Linked DNA regions of Homo sapiens: region 2 is linked to region 1. Evidence: fine-mapped expression QTL. A gene starts in region 1. The other region holds a variant in brackets. All regions are shown on one strand. Distances are between the middles of the regions.

What was found. PIP is the estimated chance that this variant, and not a neighbour inherited with it, causes the effect.
Region 2: its variant is fine-mapped to the expression of TRAPPC9 in whole blood (INTERVAL, PIP 0.92).

The regions. Positions count from the first base shown.
Region 1 is chr8:140,448,408-140,464,514 of GRCh38, reverse strand. It overlaps TRAPPC9 (trafficking protein particle complex subunit 9), which reads left to right and starts at 6,771. Exons shown (of 23, transcript NM_001160372.4): 1 at 6,771-6,876; 2 at 13,132-13,725. The coding sequence starts at 13,142. RefSeq lists enhancers at 1-416, 5,999-6,517, 15,239-15,811, 15,812-16,107 and silencers at 5,917-6,226, 6,347-6,586, 6,677-7,066, 7,177-7,226.
Region 2 is chr8:140,288,898-140,305,004 of GRCh38, reverse strand. TRAPPC9 (trafficking protein particle complex subunit 9) reads left to right here. Exons shown (of 23, transcript NM_001160372.4): 11 at 4,391-4,536; 12 at 13,927-14,012. Among named protein-coding and RNA genes, the nearest start is that of TRAPPC9, 160 kb to the left of the region's middle. RefSeq lists enhancers at 1,781-2,281, 2,282-2,782, 4,951-5,451, 5,452-5,952. The variant G/A (reference allele first, on the strand shown) is at 6,957.

The DNA of each region.
Region 1 (16,107 bases):
CTGCTACCGGAGGCGCCTCTGGGAAATCCAGTGCTCCGGGATTTCCACGCAGCCGGAGGGAATCCAGAGGGGCGAGTGATGGGCGTGGCATCAGGGGGCAGGGCGTACGAGTCACAGTGTTGATTGGCCGGTGAGAGGCCCGGGCGTGGAGCGGCAGCGGACCCCTGTGGCGGGCTCTGGCGTTTCATTCATTCGTTCATTCATTGAATGAACTGATTCACTCCATGTTTACTGAGTATACGCTGTGTCAGAGCTTGTGTAGGCGCTGGGGATTCAGAGCCGAGTCGGACACAGCCCCTGTCCTTAAGGAGCCCACGCTTCGACTGAAACCGCGGCGTCCCTGCCTTTCTTCGTTTGCACCTTATCTCCTCTCTTCTCTCAAGGCTGGTGTCCTTGCAGAAGGCGGCGACGCTCAGCCCATCTTACCTCAGGGACCCTCTCCGAGGCTTCCACACTTCTGAAAGCAGCTGTTGAACACGGAAAGGCCTGGCGTGGAATCCTGGCTAGCGCTCAATCACTGAGCCGCTTCACCCACTTTACATTCACCTCTGAAAGCATGATGCAGGCGTCCCCAACTTAGGGTGGCTCGACTTAGGGGATTTTTCAACTTTGCGATGGGCTTATCGGGAAGCAACCCATCATAAATCGAGGAGCATCTGTATAGTTATCTTGCAGAGGGCAGTGAGGTTTAAAATGAGCTTTGGTGCTTATCTTGAGGTTGAGTCCGAGTTTCTTCCTTACACGATTATTGTGAGGATATGAGATATTTATGCCAAGCACATTGCACATTGCCTGCCAGATAAGAGTTTCATAAATGAGGCCGGGCACGGTGGCTCACGCCTGTAATCCCAGCACTTTGGGAGGCCGAGACGGGCGGATCACTTGGGCTCAGGAGTTCCAGACTAGCCTGGGCAACGTAGGGAAACCCTGCCTCTACAAAAAAATTTACAAAAATTAGCCGGGCATGATGGGAGGCTGAAGTGGGACGTTGGCTTGAGCCCAGGAGGAAGAGGATCCACAGTGAGCCAAGATCGCACCACTGCGCTTCAGCCTGGGCCACAGAGCAAGACCCTGTCTCAAAAAAAAAAAAAAAAGATAAAAAAAAGTTTTGTAAATGGTAGTTACCATCGTGTTATTTTGAAGGAAGAGTTATGAAGGTCTAACCAAGTAGCTGGTTCTTAGTTGTGCTAAATAAGTATAGTTATTTTTTCCCTCCATAGCCTGTGAGCTAGAAAGCCCAGGTGAGACATGACACTATGGAGTCCTATAACACGGGAAGGAGAAGAAACTCTTTATGGTACTGGTGGGGGATCAAAACCCTTGAGAGGTGCTGGCTTTTGTGCAAAGTGGAGTGATTGGATCACCCAACCGGAACACCGTTAGCCAGGACATAAGCTGGAATTGTACCAGGAAAGTAAAGCTATATGGTCACCTTACCCTGAGGCTGTACAAGTAGCATGTGACAGAATTTGTCCATTCTGTCTCAAATTGCCTTCTCACACTTTCTTTAATCCTAATGATAGCCCTATGAAATGATTATCCTTATATAATAACTGAAAATATGGAAGGCAAGTAATTAGGGAGTGATGGAGCAGGGACTCTGTCCTAAACTTTTTTTTTTTTTTTTTGAGATAGGGTCTCACACTGTTGCCCAGGCTGGAGTCTAGCCTGCACTTTTTTTTTTTTTTTTTGAGACGGAGTCTTGCTCTTGTTGCCCAGGCTGGAGTGCAGTGGCACGATCTCTGCTCACTGTAGCCTCTGCCTCCCAGGTTCAAGTGATTCTCCTGCCTCAGCCTCCCGAGTAGCTGGGATTACAGGCGCCCACCACCACGCCCGGCTAATTTTTGTATTATTATTATTATTTTTAGTAGAGACGGGGTTTTGCCATGTTGGCCAGGGTGGTGTCAAACTCCTGACCTCGTGATCCACCTGCCTCGGCCTCCCAAAGTGCTGGGATTACAGGTATGAGCCACCGTACCTGTCCCAGCCTGTACTTTTAACTCACAGCTGTGATAATTGTCAACCTCAGCAAGCCTTGTGGGGCATTAGTCCCATATATAGATTATATATATATTATATGTGTGTGTGTGTATGTGTGTGTGTATATATATTTAGACAGAGTTTCACTCTTTGCTCTGTCTCCCAGGCTGGAGTGCAGTGGCACGATCGAGCTGACTATAGCCTTGACTTTCTGAGCTCAAGCAATCCTCTCACCTCAGCATCCCAAGTAGCTGGGACTACAGGTGTGCACAATCGTGCCGGCTATTTTTTAAATTTTGTGTGGAGATGGGGTCTAGCTATGTTGCTTGGGCTCATCTCTAGCTCCTGGGATCAAACAATCCTCCCTCCTTGGCCTCTCAAAATGCTGGGATTACAGACATGAGATACCGAGGCCAGCTTGGTCCTATTTCTTGAGACCCCTTGACTGGATGTTTCAGGGAAGCATATTCTGGCTGAGTTTACTGGATAATTTTCTTGTAGAGCTTGTTATGAACTGAATGTTCATGTTCTTCCCAAATTCATATGTTTAAATTTATTCCCCAATATGATCATATATGGATGTGGGGCCTTTGGGAGGTAATTAGGTCATAAGGGCAGAACCCCCATGAATGGGATTAGTGCGCTTCTAAGAAGAGACCAGGCTGGACACGGTGGCTCATGCCTGTAATCCCAGCACTTTGGGAGGCTGAGGCAGGTGGATCACCTGAGGTCAGGAGTTCGAGACCAGCCTGGCCAACATGGTGAAACTGTGCCTCTACTTAAAATACAAAATTAGGCCGGGTGCGGTGGCTCATGCCTGTAATCCCAGCACTTCGGGAGGCTGAGGCAGGCGAATCACCTGAGGTCGGGAGTTTGAGAGCAGCCTGACCAACATGGAGAAACCCTGTCTCTACTAAAAAATACAAAAAATTAGCTGGGTGTGGAGGTGCATGCCTGTAATCCCAAGTACTCAGGAGGCTGAGGCAGGAGAATCGCTTGAACCCAGGAGGTGGAGGTTGTGGTGAGCTGAGATTGCGCCACTGCACTCCAGCCTGGGCAACAAGAGTGAGACTCTATCTTAAAAAAAAAAAAAAAAAAGAGACCAGACAGCTAGTTTGCTCTCTATCTGTCATGTGAAAATACAAGAAGCCAGCCATCTGCCATTCAGAAGATGACCTTCATCACACCCTACCCATGCTGGCGCCCTGATCTCAGTGTTGTTCTAGTAATTTCTTATATCTGCCCAAACCAACTAAGACAAATAGCCACATCATCAAAGCATTCTGCCTGTTAGGACTTTTGTAGAGGGGAGAGAGTGTGAGTATGAGGTTGGACCTGGTTATTTTAGAAATTCCTTCCAACCTTAGATGTCTGTAAATTCCTTGAGGGCAGGTTTTGTATGTTTGAATTGTCACCCTTCAGAGGAGATGCTTAGGAAATGTTAAAGATGCTAAAGGAGCACAGCCCCAGGACCTAGACAGTACGGGGACTGCTTTGGATGTTCTCATTTGATCATTGTGGGCTGGGCTGTGGCAGGCTCTTACACTCTCTGAGCCTCCGTTTTCTCATTGGTAAAAATGCAGAGTAATAATACCAGCACTTTGGGAGGCCGAGGTGGGAGGATCATGAGGTCAGGAGTTCGAGACCAGCCTGACCAACACGGTGAAACCCCGTCTCTACTAAAAATACAAAAATTAGCCGAGTGTGGTGGCGCGCACCTGTAATCTCAGCTACTCAGGAGGCTGAGGCAGGAGAATCGCGTGAACCCGGGAGGTGGAGGTTGCAGTGAGCTGAGATCGTGCCACTATACTCCAGCCTGGGTGACAGAGTGAGACTCTGTCTCAAAAAAGTAAATAAATAAATTTAAAAAAAAGCAGAATAATAGTCCCCGCTCTCCTTCCCCCACAGATTTGCTGAGACAGCAACATAAATTGATTGAAGTGTGTACATTGCAAATAAGCAATGTTTCCTTTTGCCAGCTTTCAATCTTGCTTTCCAAGTTGCTTGCCTTATCCACTTACAGACAGAATAAGAAAAGACCTATGCAAAAAGTAGAGTCTGTGGGGTCTGACAGCCCTGGATTTGAATCCCTAAATAGCACCAGCCATTTGTGTGACCCCAGCCAAGTAGGGTATCCTTTCTGGACTTCAGCACTAAAAATAGCTCCCTTGCTTGGATCTTATGAGGTAAGCTTGGAGCCTAGTTTCTGCACTCAGACCTCCATTAGCAGTGGCCTTTTAAATGTATCTTTTCTGTATTCTCTGTTAAGCCCATACGCTCTTTTGTTTATTTATTCATTTAAAAAAAATAAAAAAAACCACTTTTTTTTTGAGACAGGGTCTTGCTGTCTCTCCCAGGCTAGAGTGATCATGGTTTACTGCAGCCTCGACCTGGCTGGACTCAAGCGATCCTCTTGCCTCAGTCTCCTGAGTAGCTGTGGCTACAGGTTTGTGCCATCCTGCCCAGCTAATTTTGGTATTTTTTCCAAGAGACAGAGTTTCCCTGTGTTGCCCAGGCTGGTCTTAAACTCCTGGGCTCAAGCAATCCGTCTGCTTCGGCCTCCCAAAGTGCTGGGATTACAGCTGTGAGCCACTGCACGGCCTCCATGCGGTCGTAACACCATGAGGTAGCCACGTTGGGCAGCTTGTGCGTTGTCAGGGAGACACTCTTCCTCAGCCCCTGGGCACCTCTGTTGAAAACTTCCTGGCTGTCTGGCAGGCTGGAAATCAGCTCTATTTGTTTTGCCCTGAAGATATGTTTTATTTATAACTCATTCTGACTCTGTAGAAAATAATTCAATAAAAACTCAATTGGTTTTCCACTAGCCCTGAGCAGGGATGAGGGATAGTATCTTATTTTATAACACATGTGATAATAAAACAGCCCTGGTCACATAGCCCAGAGCGGGTAAGTGCCTGCTGGCTGAAAGGAAAAATGCTGGCTCAGACCATTTCTCCCTTGCTGCTGTATGTGCTGAGAAAACCACTCCTGTCCTCTTTACTTTTCCATTTTAGGATTTTTTTTTTTTTTTTTTTTGAGATGGGCTCTCTCTGTCACCCAGGCTGGAGTGCAGTGGTGTGATCTTGGTTTACTGCAGCCCCCGCCTCCCGGGTTCAAGAGATTCTCCTGCCTCAGACTGCCTAGTAGCTGGGATTACAGGCATGTACCACCACGCTCAACTAATTTTTGTATTTTTAGTGGAGACTGGAGTTTCACCATGTTGCCCAGGATGATCTTGAACTCCTGACCTCAGGTGATCCACCCGCCTTGGCTTCCCGAAGTGCTGAGATTACAGGTGTGAGCCACCACACCCAGCCCTTTTTAGTGTTTGTTGTTGTTGTTGTTTGAGATAGAGTTTTGCAGTTGTTGCCCAGGCTGGAGTGCAATCGCATGATCTCGGCTCACTGAAACCTCTGTCTTCCAGGTTCAAGCGATTCTCCTGCCTCAGCCTGCTGAGTAGCTGGGATTACAGGCGCGCGCCACCACATCTGGCTAATTTTGTATTTTTAGTAGAGACGGGGTTTCACCATGTTGGCCAGGCTGGTCTTGAACTCCTAACCTCAAGTGATCCACCCGCCTCAGTCTCCCAAAGTGTTGGGATTACAGGTGTGAGCCATTTCTCCTGGCCAGGATTTTTTAATTGAAAAAGAAATACATGTACATGTTAAAAGATTCAAACAGAACATTAAACATACATAACGGAGAGCGGCTCTCTGTTTTCAATTTTCCCTGCGGATGCCACTGTTAATTCATGTGCTGGGCATCTTAAGTCTGTAAGCCTCCCCCATCTCCTGCTTTATTTTATTTTATTTTTGAACCCAGAGGGGTTTAAATCCTTAAATGGCTTCTGCCCGCACTTAGCAAGCTTGGCGCCTTGGCACTGAACTAACGACAGCTGTCCTAGCCCCTGTCGCCTCTTTGGAACCTTTTATGTGGATGGATTGTTGGGGCCCTCAAAGTCGGGAGTGCCATGGTGCCAGCTGGGGATCAAGACCGCGCGCCACACAGGGGGAAGCCGGCCCAGGCTGGGGCTCGCACCTCACGTGCCTCCCGGGCCCTGCGATCCTGGAGGCGCTCCCAGGCCGCGCGCGCCACGGTCACCCACCCACGTGGGGGGCACGACCGTGGGAGTCACGGGGGGTACCGTGAGGGTCACAGGGGGTGCCGCAGGGATCCACAGTGGGCTTCCGCGGGGCCTCCACCCCTGAGCTTCACAGAGGAAGTGAAATTTGAGCTGCGCGCCCTGAAGGACTGGTAAGCGGCGGGGACAGAACTGGGCCTCCTTCCAGCTGCGCCGCCCCAGGTGCAGAAGCTTTCCTCCTAGTCTCTGTTCTCTTGCTCCGGTCCCTCCCTCCCTCCTCGCTCCATCTCCCTCCATCTCCCTCCTTCCCTCCTCCTCTTCCTCCCTCCTTTCACCCCTCCTTTTTCCCTCCCTCCTCCCTCCTCCACCCTCTCCCTGTCCCCCGCTTCTCTCTCTCGCTGCCCCTCCCTCCTTCTTTCACCCCTCCTCCTCCTACTCTCCTCCTCCTCCCTCCCCGTCCCCGCTTCTCTCCCTCGCTCCTCCTCCCTCCTTCTTTCACCCCACCTTTTTCTCTCCCTCCTCCCTCCTCCTCCTCCCTCCCCATGTCCCCTCCCTCCCTGTCCCCTCTTCTCTCCCTCGCTCCTCCTTCCTCTTTTCTCCCTCGCTCCTACCCCCTTGCTTCCCTCGCGTCTCTTGCAAAACCCGGGACGGATCGGGGGCCCAGGCCTGGCCTCCGCGCACGCGCAGGAGCAGCGCCGGCTCGGCCGCCAGTAGGAAGCGCCAGCCCAGAGCCTGGGAAGTGGCCGCAGAGGCTGCTCGGCCCCGCTGCCCGCCAGGTCGTGGGCTCCCGCTCCGGGCCCGGGGCCACCGGCTGTGTAAGTGCAAAGCGGGGGGGCTCCCGGTCAGGCAATTCGGACCGGCTGCGGGGAGGGCTGCGCGGCTGGCCGTGGAGTCGGCGCGTCCCGCGGAGGGGCTCGCCCGGCCCTCACCTGTCCGGGCGGAGCCCGCCACACCTGTCCGGGTCCGCTGCCGGGCCGGGGTTCAGCGTGCACCTGCTCGAGGCGCCCTTGCTCCTGTTGGCGCTCTGCTTACATCTGTCCAAGGCCGTGTCCCACACCCGCTGAAGACTCGGCGGACACCTGTCCGGGACCCGGCCCACACCTGCTGCCCGGGCCGGCTCTGCTCTCCCGAGCTCGCGGCGGGGGTCCCCTTCCCCTCTGTGCCTCCGAGCTGTCTCCGCCTGGCTTCCCCTCCCGGGCCGTCCGCGGCGCTGGAGCCCCCCGCCCCTGGGCCTGGCTAAGCCCACTGGAGCCCGCGGGGTCTGGGACGCGCGGCTGGGGCCTGGGGCCCAGCACAGCCCACGCCCCCGGCGCTTTCCCCGCCCTGAGTTCCCGGACTTCTCCCCTAGCCCTTTCCCTCCTGTCTCCTGGATTCAAAGTGCCTGCGATCTAGCTGGGCGGCATCAGGCGGTGCTCTCTGGGATAAGCGCGCTGTCAACTCCAACTTATCCCAGGGAACCCTGGGGAGAGGAAGTCAGGCTACTGGCCTGTGGTCTTCTCCCTGTCAGCCCACCCCAATCCCCTCCACCCCTGCAGACCTTCCCAACGTGAATGTCTGTTAACCGAAAGTTTTCCCGTGTTAGGATGCGTTGTCTGTCTTCAAATGTTTCTATAGAGAGAGGAATTAAAACGCTGGAAGCAAGGCCCAGTTGAAAGGTATGGGGGAGTGACTTCCCTTCCATCCCTCACGGCCCCAGTTTAAACTGGTGACTGTCCCGTGTTTCTAAGGTAGTCATAGCTACCTATGACATCTTTATTTGTTAACCTGAAACAAAGCACCGGGTGGATGATGTTGGAGGCCCAGGAACATTGCCGTCCTAAAGATCTGGCTAGGTTTTGTTGTGTGTGTTTGTTCGTTTTTTTAATTGTGTGGAGGACTAGTAGTGTAGAGGGAAAAACAGTTGTCCGGAAACATGTAAACAATAAATGTTTCAGAAATCTAGTGTGTCAAAAATAACAGCTTCATTGAGCCTCGATTACCTGCCATAAAATCCACTGCTTTAAAGTGTACAATTCAGTGATTTTTCTTTTTTTTTTTTTTTTGAGACGGAGTCTCGCACTGTCGCCTGGGCTGGAGTGCAATGGCACGATCTTGGCTCACTGCACCCTCCGCCTCCTGGGTTCAAGCGATTCTCCTGCCTCAGCCTCCTGAGTAGCTGGGATTACAGGTGCCTGCCACCATGCCCGGCTACATTTTTTTTGTATTTTTAGTAGAGACGGGGTTTCACTCTGTTGGCCAGGCTGCTCTCGAACTCCTGACCTCGTGATCCACCCGCCTTGGCCTCCCAAAGTACTGGGATTACAGGCGTGAGCCACCATGCCTGGCCAATTCAGTAATTTTTAGTATATTCACACTTGTGTTACCATTGTCATTCCAGAACATTTTCATCACCCCAGAAAGAAACTCCATACCCATTAGCAGTCACTCCTCATTCCCCCCTCCGACAGCCCCTGGCGGCCACCGGTTTACTTTCGATATATATAGATTTGCATATTCAGGGCATTTCCTATTAATGGAATCATACAACATGTGGCCTTTTGTATTTAGCTTCTTTCATTCAGCACAGTGCTCTAAAGTTATTCATGTTGTGGCTTACATCAGCACTTTGTTCCTTTCTGTGGCTGAATAATATTCCATTGTATAGATTTAACATTTTGTGTATCAGGCAGTTGATGGACATTTGTGTTGTTTTCACTCCTTAGCTATTAAGAATAATGCTGTGCCTGGCCAGGCATGGTGGCTCACGCCTGTAATCCCAGCACTTTGGGAGGCCGAGGCGGGCAGATCACGAGGTCAAGAGATCGAGACCATCCCGGCCAACATGGTGAAACCCCCTCTCTACTAAAAATACAAAAATTAGCTGGGCATGGTGGTGGGCGCCTGTAGTCCCAGCTACTTGGGAGGCTGAGGCAGTAGAATCCCTTGAACCTGGGAGGCGGAGTTTGCAGTGAGCCGAGATCGCGCCACTGCTTTCCAGCCTGGCGACAGAGTGAGACTCCATCTCAAAACAACAAACAAACAAAAAACAAGAATAATGTTGTGCCTGTAATCCCAGCACTTTGGGAGGCTGAGGCGGGTGGATCACCTGAGATCATGAGTTCGAGACCAGCCTGGACAACATGGCAAAACCCTATCTCCACGGAAAATACAAAAATTAGCCGAGCATGGTGGCTCACGCCTGTAGTCCCAGCTACCCGGGAGGCCGAGGCATGAGAATCGCTTGAACCTGGGAGGCAGAGGTTGAGGTGAGCTGAAATCCTGCCACTGTACTCCAGCCTGGGTGACAGAGCGAAACTCCATCTCAGAAAAAGAGGAATAATACTGCTATGTACATTCCTGTACATGTTTCTGGTGTGGACACATGTTTTCAGATCTCTTGGATTGCTGGTTTTATAGTAGCTCTATGGAGGAACTACCAAGTTGAAGATACATATTTTTGCTGTTTTAATACCTGTATTAGCTTAGTCTCAGATACCAGAACTGGCTCAGTGGCAGGTGTCTTTTTTTTTTTTTTTTTAAAGAGTCTTACTTTGTCACCCAGGCTGGAGTGCAGTGGTGTGATCTCAGTTCACTGTAACCTCCTCCTCCCTGGGTTCAAGCGATTCCCGTGCCTCAGCCTCCCAAGTAGCTGGAATTATAGGTGCATGCCACCAAGCCTGGCTAATTTTTGTATTTTTAGTAGAGAAAGGGTTTTGCCATGTTGGCCAGGCTGGTCTCGAACTCCTGACCTCAGGCGATCCACTCGACTTGGCCTCCCAAAGTGTTGAGATCACAGGTGTGAGGTCAGGTTGTGTTTTTTTTTTTTTTTTTTTTGAGAGGGAGTCTTACTCTTATTGCCCAGGCTGGAGTGCAGTGGCGTGATCTCGGCTCACTGCAACCCCCATCTCCTGGGTTCAAGCGATTCTCCTGCCTCAGCCTCCTGAGTAGCTGGGATCACAGGCATGCGCCACCACGCCTGGCTAATTTTTTGTATTTTTATTAGAGACCGGGTTTCTCCATGTTGGTCAGGCTGGTCTCCAACTCCTGACCTCAAGTGATCTGCCTGCCTCCGCCTCCCAAAGTGCTGGGATTACAGGTGTGAGCCACCACACCCGGCTGATTATGCTGCTTTTTAGATGAGACGATAGTTTTTATTTTTAAATCATTTTTATTTATTAATTTTTTTGAGATGGAGTCTCGCTCTGTTACCCAGGCTGGAGTGCAGTGTTGTGATCTTGGCTCACTGCCTCCTCCACCTCCTGAGTTCAAGCAATTCTCCTGCCTCAGCCTCTGGAGTAGCTGGGACTGCGGGTGTGTGCTACCACTCCTGGCTAATTTTTGTATTTTTAATAGAGATGGGGTTTTGTCATGTTGACCAGGCTGGTCTCTAACTGCTGACCTCAAGTGATCCTCCCGCCTCTGTCTCCCAAAGTGTTGGGATTACAGGTGTGAGCCACCGTGTCTGGCCGAGATGATACTTCTAAAATAAGGCCCTTTGTTACCTGCGGTGGGCCGCGCTCTCCTCCTCTGTAGAATGAAGGCTTCGGTGTTTCTCAGCTTCTGTTAAACCTGTGCCTACTTTTGAGAAACATGAGCGCTCCAGTCTCCCCCGCTCAGTATTTTGATATGTCCTCCGAGGGGTTTTATGCCTCTTTGTTGGAAGGTGATGTGATTTTGGTTCTTTCGAAGGTGGTTTTTGTGTGCAGAAAAGACTCTTTAGGGAATCGTTGTGGGGAAAGGGCAGGAGAGAGTGGGGCGTCGTCCTTGAGAGCGTGAGCACTGGAGTCAGGGACTTGGGCTGAGTCACACACATGTAATATACTTGTGAACCGTTTAGATCCTGGGCAGAAGCAAGACATGTTGGGAGGCTAGGGTTTCCTTTTTTTAAAATTTAATTTTGTTCATACTTCTCTATCCATGTGTATTTTTGAAGTCTGTAGAGGTGGGGTTGTGATGTCCAGGATAGCCCCCGACACACAGTCCTCCTCCTCTCCGTGCAGGTGAGAAGCTTGCCATTAGAATTTCACAGAGGTCTTATAGCAATGTCACTTTAATCTTAGTGTCACCTGGGAGGGTTTTACTGCCACGATCTCTGCAGTCAGGCTTTGGTGACCTGAAGGTTATGCAGTTTTGGGCTTCCTATTTAAGAAAAAGAAAACAAAATTAAAAATGCAAAATTAGATAGAGGGCCATGGAAGGGGCCTGAAGCTGAACCCCATTAGCTCATGGTACAGCTGCCTCTGGCCATGGGGACCATGGCCAAATCCCCTCAGGAAGTGTCAGCCCACTGATGGGGACAGTGGAGGTGTGTATCGAGGCATCTTTTTCTTATTTGATACAGAGAGCTCATTTAATCTCCCTAACCTTTAAAAAAATTAGACTTTTTATTTGAGACTATAGTAGTTGTAGCTCCATGTGCATTTGTCAGAAATAATACTGAGGGATCCTATATACCTTTTGCCCAGTTTCCCCCCGTGGTGCCATGTTACAAAACCACAGTATGTTATCACAACCAGAATGTTGACTTGCTGACACCTTGAGGTATGTGTTACTATCCTCATTTTTATTCACAATGAAACTAGGGTTCAGGGAAGCACACAGGCTTGCTCCAGGTCACCCAGATCGTGCGTGTAGAGCTGGGAGTTGAATATCGGCCCTGACTTCCAGGCAGTGGGATTTCCATCATGACCGTCTGTAGGCTGGGGGCAGCATTCATTGGATTGTTCATTTGTTTGTTTGTTCACTAATCCCTTCAACAAACATGTATTGAGGATCTCCTATGAGCCAGATTCTTTCACGTGGGTCATCTAATTTAATTTTTCCCCAGCTCTGGGGAATCAGGTAATAACGTTTTCTTTTTATATCTGACAAAATTGGCTCAGAGAGGTTATGGCAACTCTCCCATTTATAAAGGAAAGGTGGTATATTTGTGTAATCTCTCCTTTTATGTTAGGCACAATGCTAGGCCCTTTACATTCGCAACCTCCTCAATCTAGATACAGTTTTATAAGGCAAGTTCTTTTTCTTTTAATTCTTTTTTTTTTTTTTTTTTTTTGAGATGCAGTCTGGCTCTGTCGCCCAGGCTGGAGTGCAGTGGCGCCATCTGGGCTCACTGCAAGCTCTGCCTCCCTGGTTCATGCCATTCTCCTGCCTCAGCCTCCCAAGTAGCTGGGACTACAGGTGCCTGCCACCACGCCGGGCTAATTTTTTGTATTTTTAGTAAAGATGGGGTTTCACCATGTTAGCCAGGATGATCTCGATCTTCTGACCTTGTGATCTGCCTGCCTCAGCTTCCCAAAGTGCTGGGATTACAGGTGTGAGCCACTGCGCCCCGCCTCTTTTTTTTTTTTTTTTGAGACGGAGTCTCACTCTGTCACCCAGGCTGGAGTGCAGTGGCGCAATCTTGGCTCACTGCAGCTTTCACCTCCCGGGTTCCAGTGATTTTCCTGCCTCAGCCTCCTGGGTAACTGGGATTACAGGCACGTGCCACCACACCCGGCTAATTTTTGTATTTTTAGTATAGGTGGGGTTTCACCATGTTGGCCAGGCTGGTCTCGAATTCCTGACCTCAAGTGATCCGCCAGCTTCGGCCTTCCAAAGTGTTAGGATTACAGGCATGAGCCACCATGCCCGGCCAAGACAAGTTCTATTATCACCACTATTTTGTAGCTGAGGAGTTCCAGGGAGCCCGGAATTCAAATCCAGATGTGATTGCATGGTGGATTTTTCTTAATATCCTGTTGAGGGGATGGGGGAGCAATTACACACGTGTTTATTCATTCACTCAACAGACATTTTTGAGCACTGACTCTTACTACTCCTGGTTAGGTGGTGAGAATAGAAAGACAAGAAACAGCCCCATTTCTGTAGAAGCTCCATGCTGAGGCCAAGGGACTGAAGGTCAACAGTTACAGCATTATGATCAGAGCTGCGACAGCCACGTGTAGAGCCCTAAGACCTGTTGATGCCACGGCTTTCCTTGGGGCTTCCCCTGCCTCTGGGTAGTGAAGGTCACAGTCACTGCCTCCCAGGGTAGGCTCTCAGCACTCAGGACTCTGTGTCTCACAGCCTCATTTCTTCTCTCTGAACAGGGACTTCAAAATGAGCGTCCCTGACTACATGCAGTGTGCTGAGGACCACCAGACGCTGCTCGTGGTGGTCCAGCCTGTGGGCATCGTCTCCGAGGAGAACTTCTTCAGGATCTATAAGAGGATTTGCTCTGTGAGTCAGATCAGCGTGCGGGACTCCCAGCGAGTCCTCTACATCCGCTACAGGCACCACTACCCACCCGAGAACAACGAGTGGGGTGACTTCCAGACCCACCGCAAAGTCGTGGGCCTCATCACCATCACAGACTGCTTCTCGGCCAAGGACTGGCCACAGACCTTTGAGAAGTTCCACGTGCAGAAGGAGATCTACGGCTCCACACTGTATGACTCCCGGCTCTTTGTCTTCGGGCTGCAGGGGGAGATCGTGGAGCAGCCGCGCACCGACGTGGCTTTCTACCCCAACTACGAGGACTGCCAGACGGTGGAGAAGAGAATCGAGGACTTCATCGAGTCACTGTTCATCGTGCTGGAGTCCAAGCGTCTGGACAGAGCCACAGACAAGTCTGGGGATAAGATCCCCCTTCTCTGTGTCCCGTTTGAGAAAAAGGACTTTGTAGGACTGGACACAGACAGCAGGTAAGCTTACCTAGAGACCCAGGCCCCTTGGCTTCCCTGCATCAGAAAGGGAAAGCACAGGGCAGAATTTCATTGCAGCAAGGAGTAGAAAGGTGTTGTCCATTGGTTTTTAAAACTAATGACTTTCTGTCAGAATCTGTTTGAGTGCTGCTAAAAAAACCAACCAAACAAAAACCAGTGACTTTTAAAGACAGAGACAGCCTTTGGTTGGGGGAGTCCTTTAGAGTTGTCTTGTACACTCCCCTCTTTTTAGTGGGGCTCCCCTCGTGGGACTCCTGGAGCTCTGTCCCATACAGCAGCCACAGCCAGTTGTGGCTTTTGGGCACTAGACACGAGGCTAGTTTTAGTTGAGATGGGCTGTGAATAAAACCCACGCCAGATTTTGAGACTTACTTCTGAAAAAATAAACTTTCTTGCTAATTTTTTTTTGAGACAGAGTCTTACTCTGTCTCTCAGGCTGGAGTGCAGTGGCGCGATCTTGGCTCAGTGCAACGTGCACCTCCCGGGTTCAAGTGATTCTCATGCCTCAGCCTCCCAAGTAGCTGGGACTACAGGCAGGTGCCACCATGCCTGGCTAAGTTTTGTATCTTTAATAGAGACAGGATCTTGCCACGTTGGCCAGGCTGGTCTTGAACTCCTGGCCTTGAGTGATCTGCCTGCCTTGGCCTCCCAAAGTGCTGGGATTACAGGTGTGAGCCTCTGTGCCTGGCCAACTTTCTTGCTAATATGTTTTATACAGATTACATGTTGAAATGATAGTATTTTACATATCTTAGGTTAAATAAACTATATTTTAAAAATCAGTATCAACTGTTTCATTCTTACTTTTAAAAATGTGGCAACTAGAAACTGAAATGTACTTACGTGGCTTGCATTTTATTTCTGTTGGACAGCACTGTGCTAGAGCACAGTTTGAACAGTTTTATTCAGTCTCGTCCCTTTGGTTCACAGATGAGAGGGTGAATCTGGAGAGGTAAGGGCTAGGTCCTAGCTGAGCTAGAAGTAGAGCCCACGTCTCCGGATTGCCAGGCTGTGCACCCTGCGTATGTGGCTACTTTTTCCCTCCTGATGGCCACAGTGTCGAATTCCTCACTTACAAAGCAGCCAAGCATGGATATCAGGATGCCAGAAATACCACCTGGGAGCTCCTAAACAGCTACCGTATACAAATGAAAAGTATGTCTGTTCTCTCTGTGTACAAGGAGTGTTGGATAGAGCAGGAAAAGGTCAGCTTCCCATCTTGCCTGTTATTAAGTCAAAAACTTTATTTCAAATCAAAATTGCAGATGAGCTCTTCCTTGCCACTTCCTTCCACTCTCTGCTTGCTGCTGTGTCTTGCCATGGTGGCTGTTCTGCAGAGCTGGATGAGATGCAAGCCTAGGCAGCAGCTGTTTGCCAAGAGGGCGTCCCCATTTGCCAGGGAAAGTGATGTGTCACTGTGTCAGTCACTGGCCTCCTGGCTTGGACAGGGCTCTCCCTCCTCCTGTATAGGATTGGCTGATGAGCCACAGGTGAGGATTCAGTGATGTAAGGTGCATGCCACCATAGTGCCTGCTGCAAAGTAGGTGCTCAGTATGTTTCTGAAATTTATCTAAGGTCACACGGTGTCGTTCTGGTTGTTGGTAAGTATGAGGAGAGATGATCACAGAATTGAGACACAGTAGTCTTAAATCCAGCCCTCAGAGTTGGAAGCATGGAATAGCCTCAGTCGCACCTGCCTGTGGTGCTTTGCAGGGTCTGGAAGGAAGGAATTTTCATTTCTTCACCCAAATGTGCATATTTGGCTTAAGGAAAGGAAAAGGCATGCTGTAGACCTGCTCTGTGTTTAATCCTCACGGCAGCCCTGTGATCTACACGGGGTTGCTGTGCTGGCTGATGTGGGGCTGAGGCAGCAAGGTTTAGAGACCCGGGCAGCCACCAAGCAGCAGAGCTGATATAAGCACCAGGTCTGTCTCTGAGGCCCGGGGCCTTTCTACCTCACCTTGTTGCCTTCTGCTGCGCCTCCTGTGCCTCGTGAATAGCGCACACTGCTGTCCAGCCAGCAGGCACTGTGGGAGTCATCCCTGATAAGGTGTTGCTGTATGGTGTGCACAGCTTGGCGGCCACCTGCCAGGTCGGCAGGGAGTGGCCTGCCCCTGCTTTACAGAGAAGGGGTGAGGGGTTGAAGCTCACAGGCAGCATGGGTCAGGAATCCTGCTCTGACCCCTTGACTCATGCCTTCCTCCTTTGCCACATGGGCATCAGTGACATTTTTCAGTCATCCACTTCTTGGCTGTGAGGTTGCAGATCCACCTTCAAATGCCAGGTCTTTTTTGCCTTTTGAAATCTGAGCTCACAACTCTGCAGGAGGAGCGGGAGTGTGCTGTGACGCAGTGCGTCACG
Region 2 (16,107 bases), 160 kb after region 1:
AGCAACATCCCCATGAAGATCTAGGCAGGTGTCTGATGTTGTTTTGCTGTTAGCATTCGGTAACGCACACTGAGGGCATGGGACCGGAGCACCAGGGGATGAAGGTGGCTCTCCCAGAGGACAGGGCGGTGTGGCCTGCTGTTGACTGACTTGCGTTAGCCCCCCTGCTGCCAGCATCTAGGATAACGGGTGGGCTGCTGTGCATCACACACTCTTTCATGAATGCCATTGAGCTTTTGGCAGGAGTTGGGCAACAGAGAATCCAGAGTTATGTTCTCAGGCATCAAGAAGAGCTGGTAGGTGTCTGCCGATGCTGACTGAGGGGAGCGGGCTCGTGTTGTTAATGCTCTCAGCACCTGGTCCGTGGCAGGCCTGCAGTGAATCTGTGTGCAGTAGTTAAATGTCCACATCACATGTAGGGTTGTCCCCCTCTTCCTAAATCCTTGCTCCTCATCTCCACCTGAAGGAAGGCCTGGGCAGTAGCTATGGATTAGGCCAAGGTGCTTCCTTAGGAAACAAATCCGGGACTGTCTTCATATATCAACCAAACACTTCAACGTCCTATGCCCGGAAACATGGATTTTACCAGTTTAATTAAAAAAAAAATTGGGGCTGGGCACGGTGGTTCATACCTGTAATACTGGCACTTTGGGAGGCAGAGGTGGGCAGATCACTGGAGGTCAGGAGTTCGAGACCGGCCTGGCCAACATGGCGAAACTCCGTCTCTACGAAAAATACAAAAATTAGCCGGGCGTGGTGGCAGGTGCTTGTAGTCCCAGCTACTTGGGAGGCTGAGGCAAGAGAATCACTGGAACCCAGAAGGTGGAGGTTGCAATGAGCCAAGATCATGCCACTGCATTCCAGCCTGGGCGACAAGAGCGAGACTCTGTCTCAAAAAAAAAAAAAAAAAATTAAGTCAGGCATTGCAGGTCAGCCCCTATGACATAAGAAGAGCTCAGTAATATGTACACTTGAAGACTAAAGCTCCTGTTAGTGTTACAGGGTAAGCTGGTTGAAAAATGTCTACATTGGTGAGTAAATTATCAGACCTGCTATATAGAATCGTTAAACATAAACGAATTTACTGCTGGGTTTGGCTCATAATTATGACTTTGGTTTTAGAATAGATGGTCAGAGCCATTTTCTTTTCCCTTGAGGCCTTTCTTAGTATTTGACAATAAAACTATTTTAGCAATATACAGGAAAATACTTACTTGTTCTCTGTAGCATGGGAGCATGAACTAGGCTCACCCAAAGATGGTTTCAAGTAATTCCGATGCAAGTAATGAAAAAGGAGCCAAAATACATCCCTATTTTAATTGTGTTCCAAAATTCAATTAATAAAATATTTGTTGAGTGCCTAAGACGCGCTTTTGGCCCAAGGCTAATTGCGAAGAGATGGTAGTGGCCAAGCGTGATCTCATCTGCCAGGAGGCAGCCAAGCCCACATCCTGTTGCTGTTGACCAGAGTTAAAGCAGAGGATGGTTCTGATAGAACTATAAGTGATCTTTTTTCCTTATCTATGGAATTCTCTGCAAAAATGATACAGTGTGTACACAGTAGCCAACAGTAGTCTATCAGGCCCCTAGTAAGCGTGTAGATTATTAACACACTGTAAGTCCTGGATTATTATTAAGGAAGTGGAATAAAGTTTCAGTGCCATTTCCAGTTAACCAGTGAGTCTTTAATTTGGGGGCAGTGATGGGGAGTGGGACTCATTGAATATTTTTTTTTAAGAGCTAACATTGAGCTCCTTCAACCTGGAGAAGAGCTTAAGAGTTAATGAAGGCGTTTACGTGAACAAAGACCCAAATCCTCTAGTGAGAGTGAGCTTCGAGTTGCTTTGATACGTTTAAAACTTAAACTTTTAAGTTAATTCTACCGTTTGAGGAAGGATTCTAGGCATTTATTCAGAGAGGTGTTTAGAGGCCCAAATTCAGGGTCGTGCTTCGGACTCCCAGACACCAATCAGGATGCAGCCTCCATGACTGTGTTCATGCCACTGTCCAGGATTTTCTCCCATACATGGTCTAGCGGCCAAGCCATAACCTTCCTTAAGAATTTCTTAAACCAGAGCTGTTTGGAGCTGATAAGAAATGTATAGCAGCATTCAGGATGGGAGCGGCTGGCCCCACCTTGCTACTACAGCTGGCGCGGTTGCCCTCTCCAGCTCTCTCAGTTGCTCCGGACTCGGAGCAAGCAGCCTCCACGCCGTCATACACACGAGGCACTTGAGGCCAGTCGTAGTCCCCACCCATCTCTTCTTGGATATGTTTCCCTGTGAATAAGATTGATGAATTAAATACCAAGAAACAAAAGGTGAGTGGTTGTTGACTGTCATTCCTCTCGACCGGTTCGTCTGGCGTCGCTTTCCTGATCAGCGCTCTGCGGTGCTCTGCGCGGCCCTGACGGCTGCTGTTCCTGAGGGAAGTCAGGTTTTTACGGTGTCAGCAGTTTCCAGATGGAATCTGTCAAAATCATCCTTGTCTTGGACACTTTATCCCTGGACTTCTGCTTTGCTGTTGGCAGCTTCATAGGCTAAGTACAATTTTTATTAGTTCTGCAGCTACAGACAGATAAGGTCCTGGTGCCCCTGTCCTCAGCAGGCTCACAGCTGAGTGGAAACAGATACAGAATGAAATGGTTCTGATCCGCTATGATAAAGGCATAATGAAGGGCACACACAGAGCGAAGGGAGCTGGGGAGCACCTGCTGGGTGTGCCCTTGGTCTGGAGGGCGCGGGGTTAGCACCATCTCCTGCCGTGAGTCACTGAGGGTGGTGGGTGAGAACCACGCATGTGGCAGGCTCCCCGGGGCTGGGATGTGGGTCTGTGGTGGGGATTGTCTGCCGAGTGCTGTAGGCATGCTTTGCACAGAGCAGGCTGGAATGAGGCATCTGAGGTCCCTCCTCACTGAGAGAGGTGGTGATTTTGTGGATTCTGTAAGGCAGTTGTTATTATGCAGTATAGGTTAGGGTGCACTGTGGCAGAAAAATTAACCCTGAAATCTTCGTGATTTACTGTAACAACAGTTTCTACCTCCCTCACACAAGTTTGGTGTGGGTTGGGTGGCTCTCCAGGGCAGCTGAGCTCTGGGAGGTTGCTGAGTGCTCCAGGCCGCATCTGTCTGGTGCTCCACCTTCTCAATGTCCAGCCTCCAGGATCACCATGGCCGTGCAGCCGAAGGAGAGAGCTGGGGGCTGGCCCGTCACTCTAAAGTGTGTGTCTCACAGAGGCCTCGGTGGCTCCCACTCACAACCTACTGGCCAGAGCTCCTCAGGTGGCCTCACCTTCCTGCGGAGGCCGGGAGGCGGGGGGTGGGGAGCACGTAGATTTATCACGATCAGTGTCACTATCAGTCTTCCTGTTTTCCCACCTCTGCTCCTTGTCCTTTCTGTCTGACGTCCAGGAGTGTTCCAGATCTTAACCACCGTCTTCCCAAACTGGTCACAAGGGTGACAGCACCTTCTAGTACTGTGGTTTAAGAGCATAGTGTCACCTGTTGTTACTGCTTTCCAGCCATCGGATTTGCGACAGTATACTTAGTCCCTCTTGCGTGAGTTTCCTTATTGATGACATGGAGACAATAGTAATAGTACCCAAACTAAGAAGGTGTTTGTGATGTTTAAGTGAGAGAATACATATGCAGTGGTTAGCACAGTGCCTGCTCATGCTCAGACTCCATGGATTGGTAAATTTATCTTAATGCTAGCTGGATGAATTCGAGCATGAGTACAGATTGGCAGACATCCACAGCTGGGATACTGTGGGAAGCGATGACAGATACAGATGCTGCTGCATGCGAGTAGAGCAGAGGGTGCTGTTGACCTTCTCATGGGTGCCATCTCTTCCCATGGGTCAGAGTCTGGCTGCCACTTGCTGTGGGCAGGTCCCTTGGGAAAGGGAGAGGCAGAGAGAGAAGAGCCATCCTGGGCCAGGCAGTGGGCCCTGTGCCAGGAGTCTTTAGCTGGATCCTCCCCATGGGTCCATGGGGAAGGTGGTGGCCCCACCTGCACTTTATACACAAGGAACCTACGTCTTAGAGATGGCAAGGCACGTGCCCAAAGGCACACAGCTGGTAAGTGTGAAGCGAGATTTCAAGCTGGCCTTTCTGACTCCAGACCATCCTTGGGCCCAGTTCAGGAGTCCCCAGAGGGAAGTGGCTGCTCCCCCAGTTCCAGGGAGTGATTTCCCCTGTCTGGGAGAATCTTGAGTTACTGTTGCAACACTTCCTTGCTGTGTCCTGATGCCTCGGAGTGCTTTTCCTCCCTCCATTTATCTTCCTTCTGACTGATTTACTGTTTTTCTGATACATCATGTTTGGTTATGTTTATCCTGAAACCACGCTAACCAGACAGTTGAAGTATTTGTGTTCTGTTTGAAACAACAGGCATGTGAAACTATTGAACCTTCCTGCTAGCCTCCGGCCACACAAAATGAAAAGCTTGCTGGGTCAGAACGTGTCAACCAAAAGTCCTTTCATCTATTCACCAATTATCGCACACAACCGTGGAGAAGAGCGGAACAAGAAAATAGGTAGGACGTCGATCCTGGCTTTCCCACCGTGCTCTGCCACCTGATTTCCAATGGCTTTTCTAGATTTTTAGAACAGCATTTTGAGCCAGTTCATGCATGTGCATGTGTGTGCGTGCGTGGATGTGTGCACGCATGCATATGTGTGTATATGTGTGTGCATGTGTGCATGCATGCATATGTATGTGTGCATGCGTGCATATGTGCGTGTATGTGTGTATGCATGCGTGCGTGCATGCATATGTGTGTTTACATGTGTCCATGTGTGGATGTGTGCACAGATGTGTGCGTGTGTGTGCGTGTGTGCAGTCTGTCATGGAAGTTTATTTGATTTGCTGCTTTTGGCAGGCAATTGCCCATAGATGTGATTTTAAAAAATTTATTTCATATAAGGTAATTTTGTGAAAGTTCTGGAAACCAGAAAGACTTTTGTTAACTGAGACTTATGTGAACTACAGAAGAGTGACAGTTGGAGATGTAGACTGATTTTACAAGGGCTGAAGTGACTTCTGAGTCATCAGAGAAAGATTCAGGGTTGGATGGTGTTCAGGACTGAGTGGAGGGTGAGGTAATCGTGTTATGTTCTTTTGTGAACACAGGTGATCAGGATAGTCAGTCCTGGGTTAAGCTGTGTTGTGGGAGAGACTGGGAGTGGACAATCTCTCCTGAGCTTTCCTGTGTCTGAGCTCTCGTCCCTCCTGCACCAGGGCTCAGCATGCACCACCGGCCCTGTCCCTTGGTGTCCTTCCCAAAGCCCGGCTGTAGTGCCAAGCTCCCCATCCCTTGCTGCCACAAAGACATGCCCGAGGCCCCTTGCAGGAGATTGTGACTGCCAGTCACTGGGGACCACTGCCGGCTGAGCCCACACGTCCTGTGACAGAACCTTGAGGGCCTGGAGGCTGGCCGCTGCTTGGCGACTGCCGGGGCCTCCGAGGAGTGTGAGCGGGAGGCCTGCGCAACCGCGGCGCTCTGTGTTTGATATCCAGTGCTTTCTTCTCCTTCTGTTTCTTTATTTCTACTCTTAATTCCTGTACCTCCAATTTAGGAAGAAGGCATTCCGGCTCCTTTTTCCACCATGCTTTTCTTTCCAGGACAGAGGCTTCCTGTTGCACTCGCAAGCTCACCCACACCCCGAGTTACGGACTGCAGGCGCTCCCTGACCCCCCCCTGCCCACACCCCTCCCGCTCTGTCGGGGTTTTCATGCCACCTCCTGCCACCATCACTCTGGTTTAGCTACAGGGACTCCTTTCTGGTCGTGGAAAGAAACAGGCTTGTTCCAAGCCCAGGGCTTTGGGGCTCGCTCTTTCCTTTGCCAGGAACTCGTCCCCTGCCCCTCTATCATTGGCTCTCTTGTTGTCACATCCTTTTGGTCTCTGTTCAAATGCCCCCTCCCTCAGAGGGGTGTTCTCTGATCCCAGCGCCTTGCAGGCCACTCCTCCCACCATCTCTAGCGGTGCTGTCTGGGATTCTCTTCCCAGCTTCTCTCCAGCTCAAACCCACACTGGCCCATTGATGCTTTGTCCTGCAATATCACCTGAAGCCCAGAATTCTGTCAGGCTGTGTGCAGCTGCTGTCTCCCCAGCACCTGGAGCAGTGACAAAAGAATGAATGAATGGATGGGGTACATATTATGAATCCCATTTTATAGATTTTGTTGACGGGGAAACTGATTCACGACGTTTAAGTGTCATGTCCAAGAACTCACAGGAGAACCTAGATCTCACTGTACATTTCATGTTCCTGGCAGGGCATGGTGGAATTCAAGGCAGAAGGGACAATAAGAGCATTACGTGTAGCACATCATCTTTTTTTTTTCTTTGAGACAGGGTCTAGCTCTGTCACCCAGGCTGAAGTGCAGTGGTATAATTAGGACTCACTGCTGCCTCAACCTCCTGGGCTCAGTTGATCCTCCTGCCTCAGCCTCCCGAGTGGGTGGGACCACAGGTGCATACTACCACACCCACTGATTTTTGTATTTTTTGTAGAGACGGAGTTTTGCCATGTTGCCCAGGCTGGTCTCGAATTCTTGGGGTCAAGTGAATCCCCTGCCTCGGCCTCCTAGAGAGCTGGGGTTACAGGTGGGGACCTCTGCGTCCAGCCAGCACATTGTCTTGATGAGCATTTCTCATATATTACTAGCTCTAGGATTTCTTAGCTTCTGTAAGGGTCTCATAATAAACTTCATTAACAATTTGTAAATTATCCGAATGCCTTAAAAAATAAAGTGCTTCAGAGGAAATAAAGTTGTTTGCTGAGATAAAGGGCATAACTAGGGTAGGAGTACTCAAAGAACCTTGTGCTTTTAAAAATGGTAATCATTTCTTTTATTCTAGTTGTGCTTTATAAGAGGCTATCATATGTTACCTTATTTAGTTTTTCCAGTATTTTTGGGAGATTTCATTTTTATCTCCCTTTTACAGAT[G/A]AGGAAACAAACTTAGAGAAACGACTTTTAGAAGTAACTAAAAGTTACTCAGTTAGTGACAAGCTTGATTTCACATCACAGACCACGTGTCCTGTTCCCATTAGTACCCTATGGTTTCCTCTCACGTGCACAGTAGGTGTGGGACAGACCTATTACCTGGACCTCACAGTCCTCACCCTCGGCTGGTTTTTCAGTTTAGTTCATGCAGGCAAGACACAAACGTGAGAAGTTGACTATCGAGACTAAATGTGAATAAACGCTCTCTAAAACTGTACATCTGTCAGCAGGGGTACCTGGTTACTTACACGTTGAACTCGAATGAACAATAAACACTGGGCTAACTGGGAGTGGGGTGTGGGGTGGGGGCCCCGCAGACCCTGGGGAAGCCCTCTGGAGGCTCAGACACAGCCTCCATCTGAGGAGCCGTGTGGGCTTTGCAAGGAGTGGCTCCAGCTGTTCTAGCTGTTCACTGTTAGAATGAGAAGAAAATAAAGAGACATGGGGTCATGCCCTTGAAAAACTGCAGTCAATACTGTATTTTGGAAAATTTCTGAAAATGTGAGCACTAACTATATAATCTACTCTAGAATTTGTGTGTATCTGTATGTGTGTATGTGTGTGTATGCGTGTGTATATGTGTATGCATCTGTATGTGTGTATGCATGTGTATATTGTGTGTATGCGTGTATGTGTGTGTGTCTATGCATGTGTGTGTATGAGTGTGTGCATGCATGTGTGTGTGTGTATGCGTTTTTAAAATGCCATTTTTAGTCTATTGATTCTGAAAGACACCCCAATCTTGTCTCTCCTGCCACTGCTTCTCTGATCTGGAGAACATGAGGTGACAGGAAGTGTAGGCGCTGGGTAGACGTGGTGGATGAACAGGCAGGGCCTGATGGCAGCCCCAGATGTGCTCCAGCGTGTGTTGCGGTAAGCAGGAGAGAGCTGTACAAATCCTGTCCTCACTGTGTTTTGGGGACGTCGTTTCCTGGCCTCCTGTGGGAACTCCACCTTTCCTCTCTGGAGGGCGTCTTCCGAGCTCCGTGGGGATGGGCAGGCCACCCTCAGGGCTCCTCTGTCTCCCCTGGCCCCGGACTTGCTGTCCTACGAGTGCTCAGGCTCTTCCCCCTGGGACCTTCTAGAGTCTCTGGCTGCTCTTTTGTGTTCTCATTGGGGTTGGTGATGAACTGTCTCCCCTACGGAACTTTTGAGGAAAGCTTCAGTTCTTTCGTTGAGAAAAACTTCCAGAGGTGATTTAGGAGACTGGAGGTGTGAGACTCCTCTTCTCAGGATGGGCCATGTGATTTGTGGGGCCCAGTGCAAAATGCAAACATAGGGCCTTTGTTCAAACATCACTAGGAATTCGAAGACAGCAACAGCAGAGCGTGAACCCAGATGCCAGGGCACAGGGCCCTGTGCCACTGATGGCATGGATTGTAGGCCCTGCCTCTCTGCTTTTCCTTTTCAATCTTAAGAAATTGTTGGCCGAGTGTGGTGGCCCACGCCTGTAATCCCAGCACTTTGGGAGGCTGAGGCTGGTGGATTGCTTGAGCCCAGGAGTTCGAGACCAGCCTGGCCAACATGGCAAAACCCCATCTCTACACAAAATACAAAAAAATAGCCAGGCCTGGTGGCGGGCACCTGTGGTCCCAGCTAGTTGGGAGGCTGAGGTGGGAGAATCACCTGAGCCTGGGAGGTCGAGGCTATAGTGAGCCAAGATTGTACCACTGCACTCCAGCCTGGGTGACAGAGCAAGACCCTACCTCAAAAAACAAATAAAAAGACATTGTCAAAGATTCCTTTTGTGAAAATTACAATCTGTATTTGTTGAAGAGGGCTTAAGCAAACATTATCCAGTGATTCTCAAAACTATTTGATGCTGATGCTGCCGGCATTATTATATTCCCTATTTGCAAATAAGAAAATTAAGACTGAACGAAATTTAAGTACCTGCCCCAGGTCAGATAGCTTATCAGTGACATTCCCCGGGCTCCATGCCAGGTTGCAGGACTCGATGCCCAGGGCCTTTTTTCTTTATAGTATGGCTTCTCACCATAGTAAGAAGTACCTGCTCATCTGGGCTGAGGACAAATTCAGTGGATGATGTAAGATTTTTTTCTGAGATATAACGCAAGTTTCAGCCAAAATGCACATTATTTGTTTGGTAGGAAAATGCAATTTATATCCCATAGCTTCTAATATCTTTTTGGCAGTGTACTGATCAGTGAGTGCTTGTGCAGAAGCTTGACAGATCACATAACTTTAACCTAAATTTCCAGTCTCTCTAAATGAACCTCGGTGTATAATTGGGGGAGGTATCATCACAGCAGGTGGCATAGGGTTTTGGAGATGAAGAAACTCTTGAGGGTAGTGTTTGAGACCATTTTCCACTTTAACTTGGGATAGTTCACGAGTCTTTGTGTGTTGGCTGGTGTGGCCATCATCTGAGCTACATCCATGCAAAGATGACTGCAACACTGGCCTCAGCTTGAGTGTGTTGGGTTGAAGGCCTTCTGTCATTTGTGATAGGTCTTTGTGGTGCTGCCAGGCTTAGTGCCAAGGTCGACTGCTGCCCCAGAGGCAGCGTGGTGGCCTGGAGAGGCTGTGGCTGTCAGGTGGACTTGGGCTGCACCCTGGCCCTGCAGCTCCCCACTGTGTGACCGTGGACAGCTGATTGTGCCTCTGTGGTCTGCAGTCATGCTATCTGCAGAATGGGGACATTAGAAGCTGACACGGAGGGTGGTTTTGAGGATCAAGGGAGATAATGTTTCTAAAGTCCCTGGCAGCCATTCAGTAACATTTTTGGTAGCAGTTATATGCCCTGTGCTATGTGCTGGGGATGCATTGATAAATCAGGAGTCTTTCCCGCCACATGGGTCCATACAGTTTAGCAGAAAGAGACGAACTTGTCAATAAACGCCACTGCCTGGTGCCGTGGGTCCACAGATGACAGCATGCACAGTGTGTCCCGCAACAGGGAGGGCAGGGCCTGAGATGAGGGGGTTTCAGAGAGGCTAATTCTTGTGCCTTCCCACTACTTCTAGGACAAAATAGTGAGGAAGGGCCACCACCGTGTGCTTTGACATGCTGAGGATGGAAAGGGGTTATCTCCTTCTTTCAGCAAAAATCACTTTTCAGGCTGGGTGTGGTGGCTCACGCCTGTAATTCTAGTACTCTGGGAGGCCAAGGTGGGGGGGATTAGTTGAGGTCAGGAGTTCGAGACTAGCCTGGCCAACATGGTGAATCCCTGTCTCTACTAAAAATACAAACAAATTTAGCCGGGCATGGTGGCGCACACCTGTAGTCCCAGCTACTTGGGAGGCTGAGGCAGGAGACTCGTTTGAACCCGGGAAGTGGAAGTTGCAGTGAGCCGAGATCACACCACTGCACTCCAACCTGGGTACAGAGTGATACTCCATCTCAAAAAAAGAAAAAAAAAAAGAAGAATAAATTTTTATGTAATCAACAGTTTATTTTAGATTTACCCTTTAGTAGACATGGACCATCTAAGTGTACATTATTTTTTTAGTACTCTAGAAAATGATTTTTCAAATGGCTTATTATCATCATCATCATCATCATGACCATGATAGGGCAAGCCATTTCTTAATTACCAGACGTTAGCCACTTGTTTAAAGAGAGTGACCTTCTTCATTTGTGGTGAGGAGTGGTCTGGGATGCTGACCATCAGTGGCCCCGGGCAGGCTGGGTGAGGCGGGGTCAGGCGGGCTGGGAGCATGTTGTGCTCTGGCCACTGACTTGTGTAAATGAGGAGGTCGGGTGAGCTCCCTCCCATTGAAGGTCCTCAGAAGCTGGTGGGCCTGGGAGGTGGGGGGCATGGAAGCTGGGATGAGGGAAGGACAAGACCTGAGTTTCTGGGGTCCTGAGAGGTGAAGCAGTAGGGTGAAAAGAGTGTAGGTTTTGGAGACAGACTGGAGTTCGAATCTCAGTTTTCTTGCTTCTCAGGACCATAGGACAGGCAGGCGGGCCAGCCTGTCAGGTGGGTTCTCCTTTTTTGTAGAACGGGCATAACATTTGTGCTGCTGACATAGACTGTGGCCATTCACTGCATTGTGCAGAGGCTCAGATGAGTACATGGTGGTGCAGGCATTAGGGGAGCTGTTAGCTCACCTGGTGGGCACTGTATTAATTAATTAATTAATTAATTTTAAATTTTATTATTATTATACTTTAAGTTTTAGGGTACATGTGCACAATGTGCAGGTTAGTTACATATGTATACATGTGCCATGCTGGTGCGCTGCACCCATTAACTTGTCATTTAGCATTAGGTATATCTCCTAATGCTATCCCTCCCCCGTCTCCCCACCCCACAATAGTCCCCAGAGTGTGATGTTCCCCTTCCTGTGTCCATGTGTTCTCATTGTTCAATTCCCACCTATGAGTGAGAATATGCAGTGTTTGGTTTTTTGTTTTTGCGATAGTTTACTGAGAATGATGATTTCCAATTTCATCCATGTCCCTACAAAGGACATGAACTCATCCTTTTTTATGGCTGCATAGTATTCCATGGTGTATATGTGCCACATGGCCTTAATCCAGTCTATCATTGTTGGACATTTGGGTTGGTTCCAAGTCTTTGCTATTGTGAATAGTGCTGCAATAAACATACGTGTGCATGTGTCTTTATAGCAGCATGATTTATAGTCCTTTGGGTATATACCCAGTAATGGGATGGCTGGGTCAAATGGTATTTCTGGTTCTAGATCCCTGAGGAATCGCCACACTGACTTCCACAATGGTTGAACTAGTTTACAGTCCCACCAAAAGTGTAAAAGTGTTCCTATTTCTCCACATCCTCTCCAGCACCTGTTGTTTCCTGACTTTTTAATGATCGCCATTCTAACTGGTGTGAGATGGTATCTCATTGTGGTTTTGATTTGCATTTCTCTGATGGCCAGTGATGGTGAGCATTTTTTCATGTGTTTTTTGGCTGCATAAATGTCTTCTTTTCAGAAGTGTCTGTTGATTCCTTTGCCCACTTTTTGATGGGGTTGTTTGTTTTTTTCTTGTAAATTTGTTTGAGTTCATTGTAGATTCTGGATATTAGCCCTTTGTCAGATGAGTAGGTTGCGAAAATTTTCTCCCATTTTGTAGGTTGCCTGTTCACTCTGATGGTAGTTTCTTTTGCTGTGCAGAAGCTCTTTAGTTTAATTAGATCCCATTTGTCAATTTTGTCTTTTGTTGCCATTGCTTTTGGTGTTTTAGACATGAAGTCCTTGCCCATGCCTATGTCCTGAATGGTATTGCCTAGGTTTTCTTCTAGGGTTTTTATGGTTTTAGGTCTAACGTTTAAGTCTTTAATCCATCTTGAATTAATTTTTGTATAAGGTGTAAGGAAGGGATCCAGTTTCAGCTTTCTACATATGGCTAGCCAGTTTTCCCAGCACCATTTATTAAATAGGGAATTTATGCAATGTCAACATGCCAGCTCTGGGTCAGATGTCATAGGTGTGGTGGAGTCAGTCCTCATCTCTGTGCAGGTTGCAGAGTGTGTGGGAAAAGCTGTATCTTGAGAACATGCTTATGAAAGCTCTGAAAGTTGAATAATTCTGGTCAACAGACGTTCTTATCTGCTAGAGAAGAAGCCCTCCACTGCCCTGTTAGCCACCCGTGTCTGCTCGGGGTGCCTCTGAGTTCAGAGGCCTGAATCCAGCAGCTCCTCTCGCTTGCTGTGTGGTTCCTGGGCCAATTTATTACCCTGTTTGGACCTTGAGTGTTTGCCTTGCAGTGACGGGGGTTATCATACCTATCTCAGGAGGTCCTTATGCAGAGTAATGAGATAACCTGTGTGGAAGTGCCTCACACCTAACACATGCCTGCCACCTGTTGATTGATTCTGAAATTCCTTCTGGTTTGCCTAAGAGAGGATTGTAAAGGGAGGAGGGGGTGATGGAAATTGGGACAGATGCTGAATTAGCTTTCTGTTGCTTTGTAACAAATGACCACAGACTCAGTGGCTTCAAACAACACAAATCTGCTTCCTCATGATTTGTGTGGGCTTCAGCTGGGTCCTCTGCTCAGGGATTCACAGGACTGAAATCCAAGTGGCATCTGGGGCTGTGTCCTCATCTGGAGGCTCAACTAAGGGAAGGGCCTGCTCTCACGACTCCTCAGGCCGTTCTTCATTCATTTCCTGTGATCCCCGTTCTCTTGCCAGCTGTCTGCCGGTGCTGCTTTCAGCTCCCAGAGGCTGCTCTTAGGCCCTTGCCATGTGGTCCCCTCCACAGGCCCTCTAGGCAAGGATATGGTCTCCTGTGCGGTCTCACCTGATTAGAACAAGCCCATTCAGGACAACCTTCCTTTTGATTAACTCAGAGTCAACGGATTGGGGTCCTCAATCACATCTGCAAAAACTTTCCACCTTTGTTTTACAATATAGCCTAATCATCATATTCACACTGAAGGTGGGGATTACATAGTGCATGCACACCAGGTTGTGCACACCAAGGCTGGGGGTTTTGGAGGTCGTCAGAATTCTGCCCCTGCACAGGTACTGAACTGCAGTTGACCTGGGAGTGGGTGGGGAGGAGAAGACTCCCCTCTCACAATCTTAGGGGAATAGGGCAAATCACACTCCGTGTTACTCACAAGTGACCCCAGTGCCGTCTTCCTGTGTTGCCAGCTTCTGGGCCCCGTGAAGCGCAGTGTGCCTTATGGCTCTGTACCAAGAACAGTGCCATCTGGACTGATGCCAGCATGAATGCAGCCCGCCGAAGGCAGTGACAAGCGCCATTCATGTGGCATCAAAGTGCCAGTGACAGCTACCTTGCTTTGTTTCAGAGAAAGCTGGTGGAAAAAGCAGCTTTGAATCACCCATCTCAAGAAGATCATAGAGCCTGCTGCCTCACTGAGAATGTAAATTGCCAGAGGAATAATTGGAAACCATGTAGAAAGTGAAAAAATACCAACTAATACATGGATTCATTTATGTGTGTGTATTTTCTAGATTTCCAGTGGGTTCAAGGAGATGTGTGTGAAGTTCAGCTGATGGTATATAACCCAATGCCGTTTGAACTTCGAGTTGAAAACATGGTATGTATCACCAATCATTTGACCTTTTTGGGCTAACATACAAACTTCTCATTAAAGTAGGTTTTACTTAATGTCTGAGGCACACATCTTACGATATGTGTCTGTTTTTATGTTTGTTTTGCCAAAGCATATAAGCTTATTGTAAATGAAGACCATGTTTTGTTATTCCTGTGTCTTTAGGCTTGGTTTTCAATAAATATTTGAACCTACAAAGAAACCTCTGATTTGAACACATGCCGAGCTTAGTTGATTGGGTATAAGATGTGAAATAATAATTTCGAAGCTTACGTGAGATGTGTTGAGGTTGCAAAGTCCCCATTCTGCCTGCTACTCAACGGTATCAGCATTATTTTATTGCTGCAAGATGATAAGATGACCAAGGCCCCAGGGAAGAACAAGCTGTGGAATGGGAGGATAAATGACCACACCACCACCACCACGAGCTTTCTCTTGTTTTGAAATCCTGACGTCCCATTTCTGTGCTTTGTGTAGGGTGTGAAAAATTCAGTTTGTAATCTCTTCTGTTGGAAATGCTTACCCAATTCTCTAGTCAGGGGGAAGGAGATTAGTACTGGCGCTCTAAGCTGATTCTGTGTTTTCAGAGCGGGCCCTCCCATGCCGATGTAGGTCCCATCCCTCAAGTCTTCTCTGCATTGCTGTGTGGTGCTGCTGTGTAACTTTTCAGCAGCACGCAAAGGAGGGTGCTGCGAGAATGGATGTTGTCTTTTAGAGTTTTATGACTGGTGTTCAGGGTAAGAGGCGGGCCTTTCATGCATGTATCTCGCTGAGTGCTCTTGCCACGTGTCGGTCCCCAGGCAAGGCCCTGAGGGGACAGAGATGGTCAGGCCCTGGTCCCTGCTGCGACTGTGACCAAGGCTCTGTTGGGGTGCATGAGGTGTTGCAGGCCTGTTGTGGACGGGAGTCTGCCTGGCCCTGGAGAGTCAGGGAAGGGTTCCTGGGACAGATGTGACAGCCTGGCTGTGAGTACAGGCTGAGTTGCAGTTTGCCAGGTGGACACGTGGTGGCTGTTGAAATGCTGTTTAGGCCTCTAGCACGTGGCATAGTTTCCCGAAATCTGTCTGAGCTCCTGGAAGCTCAGCTGGATGTTCAGCTTGTAGTCTCGAGGTGCGCTCGGGAGGAGCGCCTCTCCTCCTGTTGGGCGAGGACTGACCTGCAGTAGGATTTGGCTCTGGCCTTTCCTGTGGCTTTCTGTCTCAGCCTTAGTAGGGAGAAGCAGTTTAGAGAATTTTCCCCAAAGTGGTTAAAGTATCAAATGCCTGCTGCTCTTTCTTACACATTTTTTTTTTTGGTCTTAAAATGTAGCTTTCATTTTTATCTGGTTTAAAAACAATATGTGCTTATTATAACAAATGAGGAAGAGCAGGGAACAAAATAAAAAGCACCACATGGAGATAGCCCACAAATCATGGGCAAAGTTTTAAAAACTAAATTAGGAAGTATTTTAAACCTATGAAATGTTACAGGGAATAGTACACACTCGCATCTCCACCATTCACATTTAAAAAATGTTCACAGTTGGCCATATTGCTTTAGCTATTTTCAAAAGAAATAAATGCCAATATATTTGCCTAGAGACAATTGGCTCCTCGGCTTCCACCCTTGCCTGCTGCATCTGTTCCACACATAGATCATTTCACACCTTGGCTCCAAGTCCGGGCACTAAGTGTACTCACTGCCGAGAGAGTGGCTTTGCTTCTGGGTGCTTCCTGTAGACAGAGTTGGGAAAAGTCTGTGTGCATATACACATACATGAGAACACACACACACACACACACACACACACACACACACACACACTATATATATATCTAAACCCATATGCCTACATATATGTACACATGTGTATACCCCTGCGTCTGCACCATAGACATGCATGTAGCATCTGCCCTGTTCACGGGGACCCTCGCTTTCCAGCACTTCTCCAGAGGGTGCTTGCCTTCCTCCATCTGTGTGTGTCCTTTCTTCCCGCGTGAGAACTCGGGCTCCCAACATCAGCACATCTACTTAGATGCTCAGTCCTGTCATATCTGAGATAGTTGCGGGGTAGCTTTGACCATACTGCTGCAGAAAACCA